Linked DNA regions of Homo sapiens. The protein of the gene in region 3 purifies or fractionates together with the protein of the main gene of each other region. This does not show direct contact. Each region holds a gene or a part of one and is shown on either strand. Other genes may lie near its edges. The genes, in order: THADA, ZHX1, XPO4, ATL3, CCKBR and RIC3.

Region 1 (2,844 bases), on a different chromosome or scaffold from region 3:
TTGAATAATTAGGATGGAATGTGTAGGTCACTGCAGGACTTAACACATGCAGACAATAAAAATAAATTATTTGTGCAAAGTTGATCCTGAATTCTCCCAGGATCCAACATTTGGAACATATTTCTGCTTTGCTAAAATGGAACAAAATTCACAAATCTGACCAAATGGGCTGTTTGCCAACTAATCCAGCCCCTACATAAAGCCAGAAAAGGGGAGAGGGGAGGGATCATGTGTATGTGCTAAAATCCAACTCTCTGTAGTCATTTCACAGAGAATGCAGGGCGGCTATGGCAGGGCATTAGAGGCCCTGGGGGATGAAAAAGGCTCATTCAGGCCTGCAGGTGGCCTGCACCTGGGGACAGAGTAAATCTGCAACGGAGTCGCCTCACTTCCTACAGTAGCAGCAATAAAATAGGCTGCCCTGAATGAGTGAACTGAAGAAAAGTTTCTCTGTAAGGAGTGACAGACGACTGGACTCACAGAAGTAGGGGAGGCATGAATGGGATAAAATTTTTGAATTTATGTTCAACATGTTTCCTGCAGATTTAGTGGAGGAAAAATCCACACATACCCCCATCCCAATCCCCCAGATTTTCTTCAACATGCCGCTTCTGTTCTTGGAAGAGTTAACTGCCTCGATTCTGCATAAGAGTCCCAAACACTGAGAACTAGGGTGTCTTCCCCTTCCTTTCCTTCCAAAAAGGCCAGCAGCCTCAAGCAAGCCAAAGTCCTTTCCTCTTGAATGCGTAGTCTTGTGAACTCCACTGTCTTCACAAACTCAGCAGCTGGTGGAAGCTCTCTGAAGAACTGAGACAGGAGGTGGCACTGCTCTGACACCATCCTTTGAAGGTGACAGAGCATCTCAGGGCTTGGGGGACGCCAGCCGGACTTTGAGAGGAGACAGAAGAGGTGCTTGCAGAGGTATTTCACAAAGATCAGGGTCTCGGCCCAAAAGTTGACTTCTGCTTTTTCAAACAGGTAGTCTTCTTCCACCTAAATCAGATGAAAAAGCCGAAAGTCAGTCTTACAGGGAATGGTGACAAGCCCCAGTCCAGACCAAGCAGTACCCTGCCAGATGCAAGAGGGGTTTCCCTTCCCCCACCTGACAGAGGGTGCACTCTTGCCTGTCAACATCCATGTACACACACCACTTGCAGCCTTGAAGGTCACCTTCTATTTTCACTCACTGTATTTCTCCACCAGAGAGGAATTTTTTCCCCAGACTTAACATGACCTTGGATAAAGATGTGTTTGTGGTTCAAAGTCAAGATACTTTGGGGGATGGATGCTGAAAAGGGGACTTCAACAAGGGAGTGGGCTCTAGAGTTTAAGGTGCAGCTGGAAATTGGAGAGGAGGGAGGAAAGGTCATCTCTGCAGCAGGCCAGAGAGGAAGGAATCTCCAAACACAGGACACTAGGCTGTGTCCTGTTTCTATAACACTGTGATTCTCAAGGTCCTTTTGTCAGACACTTACCATGTCTCCAAATTTCTCATAAAGAGGGACAATGCGTTTTGAACCCTTGGCCTGCTGGGGATGCCAAGAAGGCCAGCTGAGTCAGATGCTGGTGGCGATCAATTTCAGTTCTCAGGATGCTTTTGCTGCTTGTCTTTGTCCTCAGTTTCCCTATCTGTGACTGCACCCACCCTGGAGGGGGCTAATAATAGTTTTCTTCAAGCAGGAAGTTCCCAGCAAAGATCCTAATTCTCTGAAAATGCTTCACCCTCAGACCTAACTTTGGGAAGCCCCAGGCTAACTCCAATACTGACTAACAAGCAGTCTCCATAATAAAACTCTCCGCATCCAGGGGCTTCTTTTTTTCTTTTCTTTTCTTTTCTTTTTTTTTTGAGATGGAGTCTTGCTCTGTTGCCCAGGCTGGAGTGCAGTGGTGCAATCTCGGCTCACTGCAACCTCCGCCTCCCAGGTTCACGCCATTCTCCTGCCTCAGCCTCCCGAGTAGCTGGGACTACAGGCACCCACCACCATGCCCGGCTAATTTTTTGTATTTTTAGTAGAGACGGGGTTTCACCGTGTTAGCCAGGATGGTCTCGATCTCCTGACCTCATGATCCGCCTGCCTTGGCCTCCCAAAGTGCTGGGATTACAAGCATGAGCCGCTGTGCCCGGCCAGGGGCTTCTTTCCGAGTTCTCTCCCCTGGCTAAGCTGGAGGCTGACCATCAGCACCCCAGAAGTCAGCCTAAGAGTGTCCCCGTGTCCTCGGCAGCACCCAGTGGGTGACTTTCCTAGTGGTTCCTGCTCTGTGTCTAAGCATGCAAAAGCCCAGCTGAGGCTGTAGGTGCTGCATCTAGCGGGTTTAGGACACTCCAACCCTGCCTCCTACTCCCCTGACACCCCGGGATCACCTGATGCATGCTCTCCACACAGGCCACGAGGTCATCACTCTCTCCCAACAGCCATCCCAGCAGGATGGGCAGTCCAGGGGCCAACTGGTCCCACTGCTGGAGCAGATCACACAGGACGGCCAGGGCCAGGGCCAGAGCGATGGAGGCATCCACCTGGCAGAAGGCAAACTCTGCAAAGACAGGAGAAAGGTGAGCAATGAATATACTGCTCAGGGCCGACCCCAGGGCAGCCTGCAGGACCCTGGGAACAATAAAGGCCTCAGGTAAAATCGCTGCCACCAGCCTGGCAGGGAAGCTGGTAGGGTGGGCTCACTGGAGACGATTAATCACCTTCTGAATCCTGCTATTTATACTGTTAGAATGAGTCATAGGCCTGAACCCACTGTTTCCATGCCCCCTAACTCAGTGTGGACAGAAGCAGTTCCATCTGCAGGATTAGAGAGTTATCTCCCCTCTGCTCCTCCAGTGTCACCAGAAGGATC
Region 2 (3,500 bases), on a different chromosome or scaffold from region 3:
GTGTTCTACTACATTTTAAAAAAGATTAAAAATAAGTCCTCAATGTAATACACTATAAGAAGTTAGTGGATTGTTTCAAATTCTATGCTTACCCACTACTAAAAAAAAGTCTAAAATATTTTATAATTAAACAGAGCCACAACTGCACTGAATTTGCAAGCTTCTGGTTTTTCTGGCTGTTTGGACTTCAAATTAAATGATTAACAGATAACAATATGTTGGCCTGGTTAGCCACAAAAGCATGCTATTTGGTAAGATTTTACATGAATAAAAACAAACTTTTTTTTCTTGAGACGGAGTCCCACTCTGTTGCCCAGGCTGGAGTGCACTGGGGCAATCTCGGCTCACTGCAACCGCCGCCTCCCAGGTTCAAGCAATTCTCTGCCTCAGCCTCCCAAGTAGTTGGGATTACAGGCGCCCGCCACCACGCCTGGCTAATTTTTGTATTTTTTTTAGTAGAGACGGGGTTTCACCATCTTGTCCAGGCTGGTCTTGAACTCCTGACATCATAATCCACCCGCCTCGGCCTCCCAAAGTGCTGGGATTACAGGCATGACCCACTGTGCCTGGCCACAAACTTTGTTTTTTACAACAATTCTGGGTCAAATAAGAGCATTTAGGGCTGAGTGAGGTGGCTCACGCATGTAATCCCAGCACTTTGGGAGGCCGAGGCGGGTGGATCACCTGAGGTCAGGAGTTTGAGACCAGCCTGGCCAACATGGTGAAACCCTGTCTCTACTAAAAATACAAAAATTAGCCCGGCGTCGTGGCGTGCACTTATAATTCCAGCTACTCGGGAGGTTGAGGCAGGAGAATCGCTTGAACCTGGGAGAAGAAGGTTGCAGTAAGCCGAGATTGCGCCATTGCACTCCAGCCTGGATGATAAGAGCACAACTCTGTCTCAAAAAAAAAAAAAAAAGAGCATTTAGAAGATACTATAGTTTTTAGGGATCATGTTAATTTTGATGTAGCATCAAAAATAAAACTGTTCTTAGGTAGCAAAAATATACACACTGAGAATCCCTTGGAATCTGCATTTGTATATATACCGAGAATGTTTGGGACTCTGTATTCTATTTAGTTTCACTTCTCTCTGAGTCAAGAGTTCTGTTTAGCCAGCTGAAAATACTTTAACACGTTTGTATTCAACTAGAAGTTACAAATCCACAAAAATCACGGAATGCCTAAACAGTACAAACAAAGAATTAGGTCATATTAAAACAAAAGGTATCCACCGTGTTAAAAAAAATAAAGGTGATTTTATACAATTAAGGTATTTTCAAAGTTAAAATGTAAAAATAAAAATAAAATGTTAAAACATTTAGAAACATCAAGTTCTTAAAAAATTAAATTAGGAATTTGACAACACAAATTTACATCCACAGCAAATGTTTTTAAAGATTGCTGGTAACCTACAATCATGACCTGAGAGATAAGTCTCAAGAAAACTGTAAAAAATAGTCTCAAGACAATAGAAAATCAAGTATTAAAGTGAATATACAAACAGGAATAAAAATAATAAAAGTGAAAGCATCTAAGAAATTGTGGTCAAAGATAATCAAATGTCAGAGGATACCTTTGCTAATGCTAATTAAGGCTGAAAGGTAAGAAACCCTATCCTCTCTATCTGTTTTTTTCCATCTGAGAAAGCAGACCTTAATGACACTAAAGATTAAAAGAAGAATCCAAATCGGACAGATTTTTTTCTGGCAAGCTCTGACCACAGATTTGCGGGAGTGAAATGTCTTTTTGAAAGGTCTCTCCCTAGGACACTAACATCCTAGTTTTCTCCCCACAGCTGGCAGGTAGGTAGGTAAGTACGTAATACATTGAAAGTGATATATAAACTAGCAGTATCATGAAATCTCTTATCTTGTGAAGAGTTTGTGAATGTGATCGAAAAGTCATTTTCTACTGAAAACAATTTTTCCCTACTTTTCTCAAGAAGGTGTGTTAAGTCTTTTACAGCCAGTCTAACACAAGAATGCTATTCTCAGTTCCAAGTGAGATTACCTTTGAAGACTGAAAAACCATTCATCTGGTCATTATCTTCCCTATTTATAATGGTAAGGTAACTGTTACCCACTTCACTGAGGATATAATGATTTGATTTTTCAAAATACTTTGAAAGATAATAGTAATCAGTATTGGTAATATCAACTTATAAGAACTCTGTTATCCATTTTTTAAAAATGAAAACTGCCACATTAATGTTTATCAAATCTTTCCTAGTATTTTCTGGAATCATCTAAAATAACAATAGGACAAATGCTTCTTATAAAAGCCAATTAATTAATCAGATAAAATATAAAAACAATTATGTACAAATACATTCAAATATATATATATTTTTTACGTCACACAGGTAATGTGCCAGTGTCATAACAAGGTTTGAGAAAGGCACATTTCACACATAAGCATGAAAACCCAATCATCACACTTAAGAACTACAAAAGGATCAATATTCAAATATTTAAGTTTTGGTATGGTTAATATAAGTAAGAGTATTTAATTAATATCCTGACTCTTATAATTAACTATTATTAGTAGCCTACGTTTTGAAAATACAGTTTCAGAATTTGTTCTTGTACATCCTGAAGCATTTTTCTGGATATAGGCAAAAGCATAGCAAAATTTCTAGATCAATTTCCCCATACCAAAGGTACATTTTGTCTTGTTTACCTCTGTTATCACAGCACTTGGTATAGTGCCTGACACAGCAGATTTTATCAAATACTAATTTTAAAATCAATTATAAATATACAAGATTTATTATGAAGTATGATGCCGTCTCCTTTTAAATTAAAGCAGTCCTATACTTATAGCTCTTAAAATTTGAAAGTATATTAAAAAAAAGTGTTAAGCATATGTCTGCTGCTTTTTAAGGAAAGCTTTTAAAAACTTTAGACAAATATAGTATCATGGGATCTAAAGTGAGTACATTCAGTATCTGAGTTTTACCATACCAAAACAATGAAACACATACTTGCCACAGCTTCCTTAGCATTCTGTTCTTTGAAATGGAAGGGTATCCCTTCTAGTTAGATGTTTAGCTCAGGCCATCATTACCAACAGGTCCAAAGCAGCAGTCTGTCTTCTCCTACAAAAAAGTCATATTTTATTATTCTAGATATAATTTAGCCTTAGTCAGGAAATTTTTACAATTTAATGCCTTAGCTTTTAATAAATAAATGTAATTTTGAAAAAAAAAGTTTATTCCCTCATCAAAACTTTAAAAGAACCATTTAAATACCAATCCTAATATTGGTAGTAAACACAAAAACTACACATTAAAAAAACTCTATTTATATCATATAGAACAACTAAATAACTATTAGACCATTTTGAATAAAATTTCAAAACGTGAATATATGCCGTCTCTAGTGTGAAAATTGAGATGCAGAAATTGGGAGTTCTTTAAAATGAGTATACCGGCCGGGCGCGGTGGCTCACACCTGTAATCCCAGCACTTCGGGAGGCCAAGGCCGGCGGATCACCTG
Region 3 (3,500 bases):
TCTAACAGAGATGGCCACCCTGAAAGACCCAAATAATGGTGCTGGAAAGGACACTGTCAAATACTGTCAGGTAGTTTTGCTACTGAGGCAGCCACTCATCCAGCACAAGGACTATAAAAGCAAATCAATCCTTTTAACAGAACAAGAACACAGTTACAGGTGCTACCACATTAACAGACTGTGAAAGTACAAAGTCTTTAGTGATTGTGCCTTGGGAAATAAATGGGTCAAGGAAAATAAAATGAGAAACAAACAAAGGATGTATGGAAAACTAGAGGTTAAAGGATACTATATGAACAACAGAAATTTTATAAAACAAAAATCTAAAAATGAAATACTTGACAGTGTCCCTTTGACATATATAAAAGAGGGCACAAATAATGTTTTTGTTTTAAAAAATATTTTAACAACAGTTTTAATAGAAAAAAAATCAACTGACTTGAATTAAGCCAGTGTTCTTGACACCCACTGGGCCAAGAGCATTAAAACAAAACAAGACCGGAGAAGTTAATAAACACAGCTAAAGACAAAATTGGACAAAATAAAACAAAAGAAAACACAAAGTGAATAAGCATCCAATCAGGCAAACATGGACACAACCACCCTGAAAAGGTCTAGCCGTTGCAACTCAGTGGCATCCCCATCACCTAAAAAATGGTAGTGGCTTCTCCCCACCCCAGTGAGCTAATATTCAACATTCTGCTGATCTTATAAGTATTATTTGGTCCAATCTGAAGAAGGTCTTTTTAAACTAAAACTAGTCTAATGAAATTACACCTCAGGAATATGGAGGTGAAATTTTCTATTTTTAGTATTGTAATAGGATCTGGGCAAATTTTGCAAATATGTTGCCATCTGGATAAAAGTTATTAAATATAGATGCCTTTTTACTTACCAAGGCATTCCTTTCCCACTCCTCTTTAGTTTTAATAACTTGATTATAGTTTTGTCATGGCGCGTGGACCTGTCCAGTCAATTGTGTGTTTCAGTGCCCTTTGGTAAAGAGACTGTACTTAGCACACACACAGATACACATAATTCACAACAGCTGAGAAAGCTTGAGGGATCTGGGAAACACAAAACACCAAGAACAATGCAAAACAAATAGATTACTGCTGCATATCACTTCAAGTTTTTTAAGGGGAAAAAAAAAACACCTAAAAATAAATGCATCAAAGTATTTTTTAAAATACAGAAACGTGTACTTCTGGATGACTGATATTAATTTCCTTCCTAGCAGTCTTTTCAAGATGTTTTTGCTTCCCCTTAATTGTGACTCAAAGCTAATCAAATTGAGAGAAATGTAAGTTATGGCCCAAGGCCCTGCATTCACATCTACCTAACATCACATGCACAGGTTGGATGTAATTCAGATGCTCCAGTTTTGTTAACTGTTAATAACACAGAATTATACAAAGTTTTGCACAGCATCACATGTAATGACACATATGCTATATGCAATCAGGTAGAAAAACCGTATTTGCAGAATGGTTTAATAGATAGGTGTCAGGAACATGGTGGAAGCAGAGTTTCATGAGTGCACCTGTGCCAGAGTCCTCTACCTGTCACTGTGCTGTGAAAGTACTGCAATGAGTGGAGTTTCATATGCCTGCTGTGTATAAATTAGCTTTCATTTCCACATTGTAAGCTGGCACACTGAATTAGGGGAGCCTGGCAGCTGTATAAAAATCCTGATTAAGAGATCAAACTAGAGGATCTAAAGTGAATTTTTAATCTCTGAAATTAAATTCACTGGCTCCCATGTCTGGATAAGAATTATTGCCCCTAATGCCCCAACGTGCAATAGTCTGTGTGAATCAGTGATTCACATCCTTTAAAATAATTATTGCTTAAGCAAGCCATTTAGAGTAGATATGGGCTATGTGGCTGGATAGAAACACACTCAAAAAGTTAGACTAGACGGAAACAAGCCTTTCATTTCACTGATAAACCTACATAAATACACGATCGAAAGGGGCAACAGGTTCATAGCAGCTAACACCCTAAACCAACTCTGAAGCATCAAGACGTGGTTTCTTACTAAAACAAATCAGCTGTTTTTGTATTTTCCTCTTAAAATTAAGGCAATGAAATGGCTACAGTTCCTAAGGTTATTTTTACGGAACAAAAATATACATGTATTTTCCTCCTCAAGTTCAGGCATCAGAGTATGATTAGTGACTTGTATTACACAAAACCTGCAGCACTGGGTTGATGTGAGAGAGAGAGAGAAAAGAAAGAGAGAGACAGAAAGCAAGAAAAGCAAGAAAGCAAGCAAGCAAGAAAGCAAGCTAAGAAAAAGCCAACAAACCCCTGGTGATGTTTCCCCTTCCTGCTGAATTATAAAACCCAATCATCAAAGGGAGGAAAAGCTAGAAAGCACAAAACCTCTTAAGAGTTTTCAATGTCTCTTTCATTGATTCAAAACTTTTGGGGTGACGAAAGGGAGAAGCTTATTAACATGAAGACTCCTGGGCCCAACAACCAGACATTCTGACTCTGAAGGTCTACAGTTGGGCCTAAGAATCTGCCTTTTCACCAGCTCCTCAAGTGATGCAGGCGATCTATGGAGATTTTGAGAAACACTGCCTAGCATATATCCATTTCATATTTAATGACAAAAATTCTAAACTTTGGCTAGCCACCTATGTTAAAAGGAAAAAAGGCACTGCATATGTATTTCGTGGTGCCCATATCTGTTTGCACATATATGGAATTTCATTTTGAAAATTTTAAATCACCATTCAGAATCTAAAAGACATATATATGACAGATTGTGGCTAACACTTAACAGCAGAAGCTGATGCCAAGTTGACCTCTCCTGTTTCACTGTATTACATACATATCAAAGTTTCAGGCTCTCCAAAATCCAAAATGGCCAAATGAACTGAGGAATAGGACAAGACTCAAGTCAACTTTCAGCAATTCAGTGCACTTTGCAGAAAGGATCTAAATTAAGCATAAAGTTCTGTTGTTTATTTTACACAAAGGAGACCACCAACATTTGCCATAAATTCTTCTAAACTCTTTAAGAAGGCCATCTTCTGCTTCCGATCCAGCGTAGGAGGAGTGCTGCTTGCAGTGAGCTTGTTGAAGGCATCTGCTAATCTCTGGTAAATAACTGGGTCTTGCTGACTTGATAGTAATGTTTCGACCAGTTCAGAATATTCAGCCTATTGAAGAGATAAAGTATACACAAGTATCCTCCTTAGAATATCATACAAGTAGATCTTATCAGTTACTGGACTGTGGGGTTCTAAAAGGCAGGGACACATTTTTAAGAGTTAACATTTAGAATAATTCAGCATTTAAGTACTACTGTTTGAAAACCTTTTACATGGATTAATTCATCTATCATTTACAACAATGCTTCGAGACAGGTACTGTTTCTATTCCCATTCCAGAGGTGAAGGTTTCGACACTCAGTGAGGTGAAGTGATATGGCCCAGATCAAGCAAGAGTCCACCAATCTAGCCCCAAGACCCATGTGATAATCAACT
Region 4 (3,500 bases), on a different chromosome or scaffold from region 3:
CCTCATGATCCGCCCGCCTCAGCCTCCCACAGTGCTGGGATTACGGAGTTTCACTCTGTTGCCCAGGTTGGAGTACAATGGCACGATCTTGGCTCACTGCAACCTCCACCTCCCAGGTCCAAGCGATTCTCCTGCCTCAGCCTCCCGAGTAGCTGGGATTACAGGCATGAGCCACCATGCCCGGCTAATTTTTGTATTTTTAGTAGAGACAGGGTTTCACCACGTTGGTCAGACTCGTCTTGAACTCCTGACCTCAGATGATCCACCCACCTCGGCCTCCCAAAGTGCTGGGATTACAGGCCTAAGCCACCATGTCTGGCCTATTTTTTTTTTTTTTTTGAGACAGAGTTTTGCTCGTCACCCAGGCTGGAGTGCAATGGCGCAACCTCGGCTCACCACAACCTCCACCTCCCAGGTTCAAGCGATTCTCCTGCCTCAGCCTCCTGAGTAGCTGGGATTACAGGTGCACACCACCATACCCGGCTAATTTTTGTATTTTTAGTTGAGCAAGACTGTCTAAAAAAAAAAAAAAAAGTTGTTTTCTGTTAATTTTAATATCTGTGTTAGTTCTGAGACAGTTTTGATTGATTTTTCTCCTCATTTGGGTTATATTTTTCTGCTTCTTTTATGTCTGCAAATTTTTGATAGGATGTAGACTTGTGGATTTTCCCTTGTTGGGTGCTGGTTATTTTTGCATTCCTATAAAATATCTAGCTTTATTCTGAGATGTAGTTAAGTAATTTGGAAACTCTGGTTTTTTCTGTTCTTGCTGTTTAGATTTGTTAAATGGAACCAGAGTGTTGTTATTCCTCATTACTGAGGCAAGACTGAGTACTCTTCCTAATCCCACTGCAATCTCCGCCGCCCAGGTTCCAGCAATTCTCCTGCCTCTGCCTCCCAAGTAGCTGAGATTACAGGTGGGCGCCACCACGCCCAGCTAATGTTTGTATTTTTAGTAGCAACAGGGCATCACCATGTTGGCCAGGCTGGTCTCGAACTCCTGACCTCAGGTGATCCGCCCACCCCAGCCTCCCAAAGTGCTGGGAATACAGGCGTGAGCCACCGCATCTGGCCTTTTTTTTTTTTTTTAGATGGAGTTTAGCTCTTGTTGCCCAGGCGGAAGTGCAATGGTGCGATCTCGGCTCACTGCAACCTCCACCTCCCGGGTTCCAGCGATTCTCCCACCTCAGCCTCCCAAGTAGCTGGGATTACAGGCATGACCCATCACACCCAGCTAATTTTTTGTATTTAGTAGAGATGGGTTTTCACCATGTTGGTCAGGCTAGTCTCAAACTCCTGACTTCAGGTGATCCACCCACCTCGGCCTCCCAAAGTGTGAGATTACAGACGTGCGCCACCGCGCCGGCCAAAGAATTTTAAATGAACATCTTGTGGAACAACTTCAAGCAGCAAGAGGCACATGTAATAGGAGTCTCCAAAGGGAGTAACAGACCAAAAAAACTTGAAGAAATAATAACCTTAAAATGTCCAAATTTGATAAACATTATAAATCTGCAGATTCAAGAAGCTCAACAAAACCCACATACAAATAACATGAACTACATCAGCCTGGCGCAGTGGCTCACGCCTATAATCCCAGCACTTTGGGAGGCCAAGGCGGGCAGATCACGAGGTCAGGAGATCGAGACCATCCTGGCTAACACAGTGAAACCCCGTCTCTACTAAAAATACAAAAACTTAGCCGGGCGTGGTGGTAGGCGCCTGTAGTCCCAGCTCCTTGGGAGGCTGAGGCAGGAGAATGGCGTGAACCCGGGAGGCGGAGCTTGCAGTGAGCCGAGATCACGCCACTGCACTCCAGCCTGGGCGACACAGTGAGACTCCGTCTCAAAAAAAAAAAAAGAACTACATCAAAACACATAATAATTTGCTCAAAAACAGTGATAAAATCTTAAAAGCAACCAGACATACCCTATAAATATATATACCTATGTACCCACGAAAATAAAATTTTTTTTAATTTAAAGAAAAAAGCAACCAGACAAAAAAGACAGATTAGGTACAAAAGAACAAAAATAAGAATAACAGTGTATTTCTTGTCAGAAACAATGTCAGCAGACTGGGCACAGTGGCTCATGCTTGTAATCCCAGCACTTTGGGAAACAGAGGCAGGTGAATAACCTGAGGTCAGGAGTGCAAGACCAGCCTGACCAATATGGCGAAACCCCGTCTCTACTAAAAATACAAAAATTAGCCAGGCGTGGTGGTGCGCGCCTGTAGTCCCAGCTACTCAGAAGGCTGAGACAGGAGAATTGCTTGAACCCGGGAGGCAGAGGTTGAAGTGAGCCGAGATCGCACCACTGCACTCCAGCCTGAGCAACAGAGAGACTCCCTCTCAAAAAAAAAAAAAAGAAACAATGTCAGCAAAAAGGCAAAGGGGCAACACCTTTGAAGTACTGAGAAAAATACGTTGGCCTAGAACTCTACACTAAGAGTAAATATTTTCCAAAACAAAGGCAAAATAAAGATTTTTCAGATGTATGAAAGCTAAAAGAATTCAGTACCAACACTCCAGCACTTCAAAATATCAAAGGTGGCCAGGTGTGGTGGCTCACCCCTGTAATCCCAGCACTTTGGGAGGCTGAGACAGGCGGATCACGAGGTCAGGAGTTCCAGACCAGCCTGGCCAACATTGTGAAACCCTGTCTCTACTAAAAATACAAAAATTATCCAGGCATGGTGGTGTGCACCTGTACTCCCAGCTAATGAGGAGGCTGAGGCAGGAGAATTGCTTGAACCTGGGAGGCGGAGACTGTAGTGACCAAGATGGTGCCACTGCACTCCAGCCTGGGCAACAGAGTGAGACTACATCTCAAAAAAAAAAAAAAAAAAAGGACAAACAGGTGTGAAGGCATGCTTATAGGATTGGGCTAAAAACAGAAGTAATGGATGAAAGTCTGTATAAGAAACACATGACTTACCCCTCCCGATCCTTACAAAGAAATCTGTGGAGAGGCTCTATGCCCATAGCTTACAAGGCATAGATGAGACTGGGGCTAAGAAGCCCTACTGATAGCTAGGGGATAGTGAATGCCCACCTTCTGAACAGTGAGATCCCCAATGCCATTTCCCTGCTCAACTCCCAGAACAACAGCCAGGTCTGTGCCACCCATACAGGAGTAAGGAAGTAAAGAACAGAAGTGGTAACACATAAGAGCATCAGCCTCTGGGAAGTGAAAACTGGGTAGAGAGGAGAATAACACACATGACAGCTGCTTTCTGTTAGAAGCCTTACAGTAGTACCTGACCTTTTAAACTATATTCATGCATTTTATTTAAGAATCTTAAAAACAATCAATATGTATTAATTTTAAATCATTCACTTTGATAAAAAGTTGTTTTCACATCTTCCTTCCTTTTATTGAAAAAAAATTTCAGAAAATAACAGTTCATAAAAGACACAAACAAATCAACAGGTATATACCAGTGGAAAACACAATATGAAACTAAAAATGCCATTGGCTTTTTTTTTTTTTTTTTGA
Region 5 (3,500 bases), on a different chromosome or scaffold from region 3:
AGCTTTTTAAAATGTTTGTTGGTGATTGGGCCGAGAGAGGAAGATTGAAGGTGCAGATAAGAAAGGGGATAGTCAATAGAGAAGATTCCCTGTGAAAGCGGGATGTGACGCAATTCAGAGCACAGGTGCAAAAATTTGCCTCACTTATCTAAATGCTCCTCACACATTTGGATGTTACCCAGCCAGTCAGATGTTACACACAGAGACCCTGTCAGCCACACTCATTCAGATATTATCCCTGCAGATGCATAGGTTACCCAGGTTCACTCCAATGTTACCAATAGGAATTTGGATGTTACCACTTTATTCTCCTTATATAATCCATGCAGACTTGAGTATTACCCATGTTCACTCAGATAGTACCCACAGAAAGACAAATGTTACCACACTCACTTTAATATTGTCCGAAGTCATTTTGGTGTTACCCATCCATCAAACACTACTCACTTTCATTTTATTATTATCCACACACAACCAGATATTACCTATGCTCACTTAAGTAAGCTTTTCCCAGATACTACCCATAAAATTACAAATATTACTCTCACATACTCAGATAATACCCACAAAAGCTTAAATATTACTTACATTCACTCAGGTGCTCAGTTATTTCATTTACTCAGATTAACATCTTTTTTTTTTTTTTTTTTTTGAGGCAGTCTCCCTCTGTTGCCCAGGCTGGGGTGCAGTAGCATGATCATGGCTCATTGCAGTCTTGACCTCCGCAGGCTCAAGTGATCCTCCCACCTCAACCCCCTAAATAGCTGGGACTACAGGCATGTGCCACCACAAGTGGCTAATTTTTTGTATTTTTTGTAGAGATAGGGTTTTTCCATGTTGCCCAGGCTGGTCTCTAAATCCTTGGCTTAAGAGATCTGCCCACCTCAGCCTTCCAAAGTGCTGGGATTACAGATATAAGCCACCATGTCTGGCCCAGATTAACATCTTAATTTAGTTAACATGTTAACATCTAACATCTGTACTCAAATACTACCCATACATACTTGGATATTACTTCTGCTCAGTCAGCAATTTCTATCATTATTTGGATATTCCACTACTCACAAGTAGACCTCTGAATGTAATCTATGCTTCCTGAAGATGTTACCTACAAAATGTTATCTACAGAGAGTTGGATATTAACCCTTGCTCTTTCAAATGTTACTACAGTGACTCAGATATTATCTAAACTTAAATGTAAGCCATATTCAATCGGATATTACCTATAAGCATGTAGATGTTACCATTCTCCAGATATGTCCCACAGAAATAAGCGTGACTTTCACCTACCCATATACTATTTCAAAGATTAAAGTATGCCCAACACTCACTCTGATATTACCTACACACCCTTGCATATTACTTCTGCTCCCTCAGTACCCACTATGTGGATTCCCCCATTCACCCAGCCACTACCCACAGTCAGTTGGATGTGATCCCTGCTTATCATAGAGACAAGGGTATTACTTTGATGTCTGTGTGCATGGGTGAACAGATCAAACCTGCCAGTAGAATGCAGAATTTAAGGCATCAGCAGCTTCAGTGTTCTGTGGAGTTTTTCCTTAGAAAGTCTTGGTTTTCATTTTATGTCACGTTGTCTGGATTTTTGCACTCATACTTCTCTGCCATTATCTAGACAGAACAAATACAGATCTTCTAAACACCAGGAGAAGAACTGAACTGTCCCAATCTTCTGAGTCGCCTGGTCTGATGCCAGTTTTCCTCATCCCCAGGAAGATGATGAGATGATGCTCACGGGTAGACTTATCAAGGCACTTGTGGATGTACCCCAGCAGGTGCTATCTCCCATCCTTCTACCCATGCCTGTTTCCTAGTCACTGAAGCCACTGTCATCACTCATATTCCACCATGCAAACACACATCAATACACACACACACACACACACGCATACAAGTCTAAGTCTGATTTATTTTGTGCATGACTTTTTAAACTAATGGATTATTTTTAGAGCAGTTTTAAGTTTACAAAAATTACAGAGTGCCCATACACACACAACCACACATATACACAGAATTTACCCTATTATTAACAGCTTACATTAGTGTGGTACATGTGTCACAATTTATGAGCCAATATCAATACATTATTCTCTAAATTCTAGAGTTTACATTAGGGTTCACTTTTTGTGTTGTATGGTTCTATAGGTTTTGACAAATGTATAATGGCATGTATCCATCATTACAGTATCACACAGAATAGTTTCACTGCCCTAAAAATCCCCTGTACTTCATCTATTTATCCCTCGCTCTGCCTCTCCAAACTCCTGGCTCTAAAATTGCTTTTAATTAGAATTTTTCACATTTCTGAACTGTTCAACAGCAAAGACGTGTGGAGACAGTGGTGGCTGGAAATAAGATAATAGCTAGGAATGTCCAGTAAAACAGCAGAACACTGCACAGTTGCTGGTCATTTTTACTGGGACTTTGTCTTATAAATTTCAGGAGTCCCCAAGCATATTGCAAACTTTATAAGGGTAATATTTAGCTCCATCTTTATGGTCTATCACAATTAGCCAAGTTCAAGGGCACACACATGGGACATCAGCTGGATGAATGAATGAGAAATTGCTTTTCATGCTTCACAGTACTGTACCAATTTGAGGTGTGGCGAATTGCATCAATAATTAGTTGAAGAAAGACATCCAGGGCAGATGTAAGCAAGATAATGGAACTAGAAAGATTAAAGAGGTGGAGGCTGGGGGTGGGAGGACAATGGATTTGGAGAAGAAACAGTGAGTCCAAGATAAACCACCAGCTCTTTTCTGAGTCCAAGGACCTCTCTGACAGAGGTCTCCCTCCTAAAAGTCCTTTATTCTCCACCATACACACTTACTCCCCTCAAATTTTGTCACCTATAAGCCTTCTGTAATCCTTCCTTACAGAGAGAGGCCCAGCTTCTAAAGGAAATATAGATGGTTTGCATATAAAAAACAAAAGTTATGCATCTGAAATCATAACCTCTCACTGACCCCCACAAGGACCTTCCAACATGTGTCTCCAAAAAGACAGAGGCAAAGAAGAAGAAGAAAGGGCATGCTGGAGCACCTCTGCAGAGATGACGGATGGATGAGGAGGGGGAAAGCAGGTGCACTTCTGTCTTGAAAGACAGAATCATCCAAGATTCATTAACAAGCATGTGTTGACTGCCTCCCCTGTGCTAGGGATGATGAGTGCTAGGGATATACTGGAGAGCGAGATGGACCTTGCCACTGTCCTCAAGAAGCTCCTAGTCTAGTGGGGAAGACAGAGAATTACATACATACTAATACAGTGAAAAATGCCATGGTTGAGTATAGAGAGAGGGAGAAAGAGGCATTTAGATTGAGATTTGATTAAGAAGGAGGCAGTATGGGCCAGGCGTAGTGGCTCAAACCTGTAATCCCAGCACTTTGGGAGGCCAAAGCAGGTGATCACCTGAGGTCGGGAGTTCGAGACCAGCCTTACCAATATGGAGAAACCCATCTCTACTAAAAATACAA
Region 6 (3,500 bases), on a different chromosome or scaffold from region 3:
CGGCCACAGAGCCTCCTTTCTAAGTAGGAAAAGAGACAATAAACAAGATAATGATAAATACTAAGGAGAAAAAATAAGACAGGGAGAAGGGGTAGGACCGTGTTGGAAGTTAAGATTTTAGCTGGAATGGCCAGAGAAGGCATCAGGAAATGCAGTTTGAGAGAAAACATGAAGACGAAGGGAAAGGCACATGGATATCCAAAAGAAGAGCATTTCAAACAAGGGAAACAGCAAATGCAAAGGCACTGAAGTGGGAACATGCTTGGCATATTCAAGGAACAGTGAGGAGGAAGCCAGTGTGGCCACAACAAAGTGAGACAGATAGAAAAGTAGAAGCAAATGGGGAAGAGAATTACATAGGGCCTTTTGGGTCATGTATAGACTATCTTTTCATCTAAGCCAGGAAGCCACTGTAGAGTTTTGAGGAGGGGAGAGATGTGAGTTGACTTAAGCTTCAACATAATACTATCTGGCAGCTATATTGAGAATAGACTGAAGTGGGGAAGGAGGAAGGAGGCAAACCAGGGTGACAGAGTAAGATGGAATAGAGCAACCAAATAACCAACTGGTTGAATGACCCTAAACAAAACGTTTCCATGAATACAGTGGTGGGACTCTAAAAGCAGTTTTAAATGACTAAGACATTTAAAAAAATAATTTGACCTATCAAGAAAACATGCTGAGGCTGGGCATGGTGGCTCATGTCTGTAACTCCAGCACTCTGGGAGGCCAAGGCAGGCAGATCATCTGAGGTCAAGGGTTCGATACCAGCCTGGCCAACATGGTGAAACTCCGTCTCTACTAAAAATACAAAAAAAATTAGCCAGGCGTGGTGGTGGATGCCTGTAATCCCAGCTTCTCAGGAGGATGAGGCAGGACAATTGCTTGAACTTGGGAGGCAGAGGTTGCAGTGAACTCAGATCCTGCCACTACACTCCAGCCTGAGAAAAAACAAACAAAAAGAGAAAACATGCTGATCATAATCAAAGGTAAAATTGTAAAAAAAGAAAGAAAAAAAGAAAAATTATAACATGGTGGGAAAAATTTGAACACCAACTAGATATTTAATGACATCAAGGAAGTATTGACTTTTTAGGTGTGACAATGGTATTGTGGCTACATTTTAATAAGAATCTGTTTTTAGAGATGCATACTGAAGCATTTAAGGATGAAAAATGATCCAATGTCTAGGATTTGCTTCAAAATAATCCAGTGAATGGGGGGAAAAGTGGGTGGGGATACCCATGACACAAGACTGACCATGTATTGATGGCTGCTGAAGCAGGATGATATGGATTCATTTTACTACTCTCTCAACTTTTGCTTATGTTTGAAAATGTCTTTAACAAAAAGTTTTTTAAAAATCAAGAATGGCACACAGCTAAGAAATGGTAAGCAGATACATTGAATGAAACATTGAATGCTCTGAAAAAATTTCAAGAGCTAGAATTCTTGGCCAAATTTAAACAAATAAAATGCAACAAGGAAAACTACAAATTCCTACATTTCATTCCGAAACATCAAGTGAACAGTAGAAAATGAACAAAACCTAGATGAGCAGCTCCTATTAAAAAGAAGAAAAAAAGGCTCAGAATTCTAATATACAGCAAAGTCAGCAAGGAAAATGCTAAAAACTAGAGCAATCCCCAGAAAGCATTAAGTATAGAAGAAGAAGAGTGCAGGGAAACAACAGATTGCTCTTTCATGAACTGTCTTAGATATGCTGTTATTTGCAGTTCTAAGAGCCTCTTCTGAGAGGGCTGTGTTCAAACACTTGCACCTAGGTCATACCAGGAACGGATGAGGGAGCTAGGGATGTTAACACAGGAAAGAAGACTGAAGAAAGGGACATAATACTACTTTTCCAATTCCTGGATTAATCATCTTACACCTGTAAACCAAAAAGTATCTGGGACAGGCCTCAATCAATTTAGAAGTTTATTTTGCCAACGTTAAGGACACGCCCAGGAGAGAGGTCTGTGCCTTTCTCCAAAGATGATTTTGAGGGCTTCAATATTTCAAGGGGAAAAGTGAGCTGGAGGGGAAAGAAGGGTATGGTAATCTATATGTTGCAAGAGAAAAGGAGCAGGTAGAGGAATAGTCAATTATGTATTCATCTGGTGCTCAGTAAATCGGCACTTCACGTAAGATACGGTGAACATAGAGTAGCTACCTGTAGAGATATTTAATTTTTTATCTGTAGCTACCTGCTTAGGAACAAAAGGAAAGGCAGTTTCTTGCACGACTCAGCTTTCAGCTTAATTTTTTCCTTTTGGCATAGTGAACTGGGGTCCCAAGTTTTTATTTTCTTTTCACACACCTTTAATCTACTTTTCCTCCATTCCTATTTTGGCAAAGGAAATCAACATCTATCCCTTCACCTAAACCTGAGAATAATCCAGATGTCTCCCTCTCCCTCACTTTCCCATTCTATTTTAAAATGTCTCTTAAAATTATTCTCTTCCCTCCAATCTATCCATTGATAACCTCTCTTGCTCTAATATCCATATTTTCCTTTGGGAACTCCTCTCAACTCCAGAGTGGATTCATCAGTATATTCTTTCTACCCACAGCACCACAAGTTAACTTAATTCAAGCCATTAACGTGAACGGATATGTTTGCTGGAACTTCTGGGAAAGAATCTTGGGAGTGAGGCTGGAAGGTGAGAGTGATGGAGGACTTAAAAGAAAAGAGGCCTGGAGCTGTGCCCAGCAAAGTGCTGTAATCCCAGCACGTTAGGAGGCTGAGGTGGGACAATGACTTGAGGCCAGGAGTTCCAGGCCAGCTCTACACACACACGTATATAAATGAGACACTCCCACTTTCTCCGGGCAATGGAATGTGAGGAGGTAATGTCCGAAACTGTTGCTATAAATGAGACACTCACTTTCTCCGGGCAATGGAATGTGAGGAGGTAATGTCCGAAACTGTTGCTATAAATGAGACACTCACTTTCTCCGGGCAATGGAATGTGAGGAGGTAATGTCCGAAACTGTTGCTATAAATGAGACACTCACTTTCTCCGGGCAATGGAATGTGAGGAGGTAATGTCCGAAACTGTTGCAACCATTGCTACCACCCTGAGAGGGCAGCCAGAGCACAGAACCAACTTGAGAACGAACCCAGAGTGAAAAGGACACAGAAAATAAGAGCTAGAGCCCCAGTGTGACAACTGTGAGTCTCTGGTTCAAACCATACTGCAAGACATTTCTAACACAGGGTCTTTTCATTTACACAAGTCAATAAATTCCCTGTCTTAGTCAAGCTGACTTTTCTGTCACTTGTCACAAGCACCCTAACTGGTGAACCCAATGACAATGACTTGGTGATGCTCATGATGTCTCAACTGGATGACTACAACAATCTTCTCCCTGAAGAAATCCTCACAACGCAGTGTCTACACTGCTGCCAGGGTGTCCTTTCTAAAACCAGGTTAAATGTTTCTCTTCTCCTTACACACTCAATGATGCCTCATCTGCCTTTAGAATAAAACCCAATC

Evidence for each region.
Region 1: the proteins of XPO4 (region 3) and THADA purify together in Homo sapiens (affinity purification with mass spectrometry, with the first as the bait; one large-scale study listed by BioGRID). This does not show direct contact.
Region 2: the proteins of XPO4 (region 3) and ZHX1 fractionate together in Homo sapiens (co-fractionation; one large-scale study listed by BioGRID). This does not show direct contact.
Region 4: the proteins of XPO4 (region 3) and ATL3 purify together in Homo sapiens (pull-down; one large-scale study listed by IntAct). This does not show direct contact.
Region 5: the proteins of XPO4 (region 3) and CCKBR purify together in Homo sapiens (co-immunoprecipitation; one large-scale study listed by IntAct). This does not show direct contact.
Region 6: the proteins of XPO4 (region 3) and RIC3 purify together in Homo sapiens (co-immunoprecipitation; one large-scale study listed by IntAct). This does not show direct contact.

The regions. Positions count from the first base shown.
Region 1 is NC_000002.12:43,230,351-43,233,194, forward strand, and holds the end of THADA (tRNA (32-2'-O)-methyltransferase regulator THADA), read right to left. Parts: intron 2,533-2,844; coding exon 2,363-2,532; intron 994-2,362; coding exon 598-993; 3' UTR 501-597; downstream 1-500. UniProt on the Homo sapiens protein: Together with methyltransferase FTSJ1, methylates the 2'-O-ribose of nucleotides at position 32 of the anticodon loop of substrate tRNAs.
Region 2 is NC_000008.11:123,264,287-123,267,786, forward strand, and holds part of ZHX1 (zinc fingers and homeoboxes protein 1), read right to left. Parts: intron 3,101-3,500; 5' UTR 3,008-3,100; coding exon of another isoform or gene 2,987-3,007; intron 2,460-2,986; exon of another isoform or gene 2,356-2,459; intron 1-2,355. Other genes in the region: ZHX1-C8orf76 (zinc fingers and homeoboxes protein 1), read right to left, coding at 2,987-3,007. UniProt on the Homo sapiens protein: Acts as a transcriptional repressor. Increases DNMT3B-mediated repressive transcriptional activity when DNMT3B is tethered to DNA. May link molecule between DNMT3B and other co-repressor proteins.
Region 3 is NC_000013.11:20,780,747-20,784,246, forward strand, and holds part of XPO4 (exportin-4), read right to left. Parts: intron 3,174-3,500; coding exon 2,976-3,173; 3' UTR 1-2,975. UniProt on the Homo sapiens protein: Mediates the nuclear export of proteins (cargos), such as EIF5A, SMAD3 and isoform M2 of PKM (PKM2). In the nucleus binds cooperatively to its cargo and to the GTPase Ran in its active GTP-bound form.
Region 4 is NC_000011.10:63,654,377-63,657,876, forward strand, and holds part of ATL3 (atlastin-3), read right to left. Parts: intron 1-3,500. UniProt on the Homo sapiens protein: Atlastin-3 (ATL3) is a membrane-anchored GTPase that mediates the GTP-dependent fusion of endoplasmic reticulum (ER) membranes, maintaining the continuous ER network. It facilitates the formation of three-way junctions where ER tubules intersect.
Region 5 is NC_000011.10:6,262,838-6,266,337, forward strand, and holds part of CCKBR (gastrin/cholecystokinin type B receptor), read left to right. Parts: intron 1-3,500. UniProt on the Homo sapiens protein: Receptor for gastrin and cholecystokinin. The CCK-B receptors occur throughout the central nervous system where they modulate anxiety, analgesia, arousal, and neuroleptic activity.
Region 6 is NC_000011.10:8,159,026-8,162,525, forward strand, and holds part of RIC3 (protein RIC-3 isoform a precursor), read right to left. Parts: intron 1-3,500. UniProt on the Homo sapiens protein: Molecular chaperone which facilitates proper subunit assembly and surface trafficking of alpha-7 (CHRNA7) and alpha-8 (CHRNA8) nicotinic acetylcholine receptors.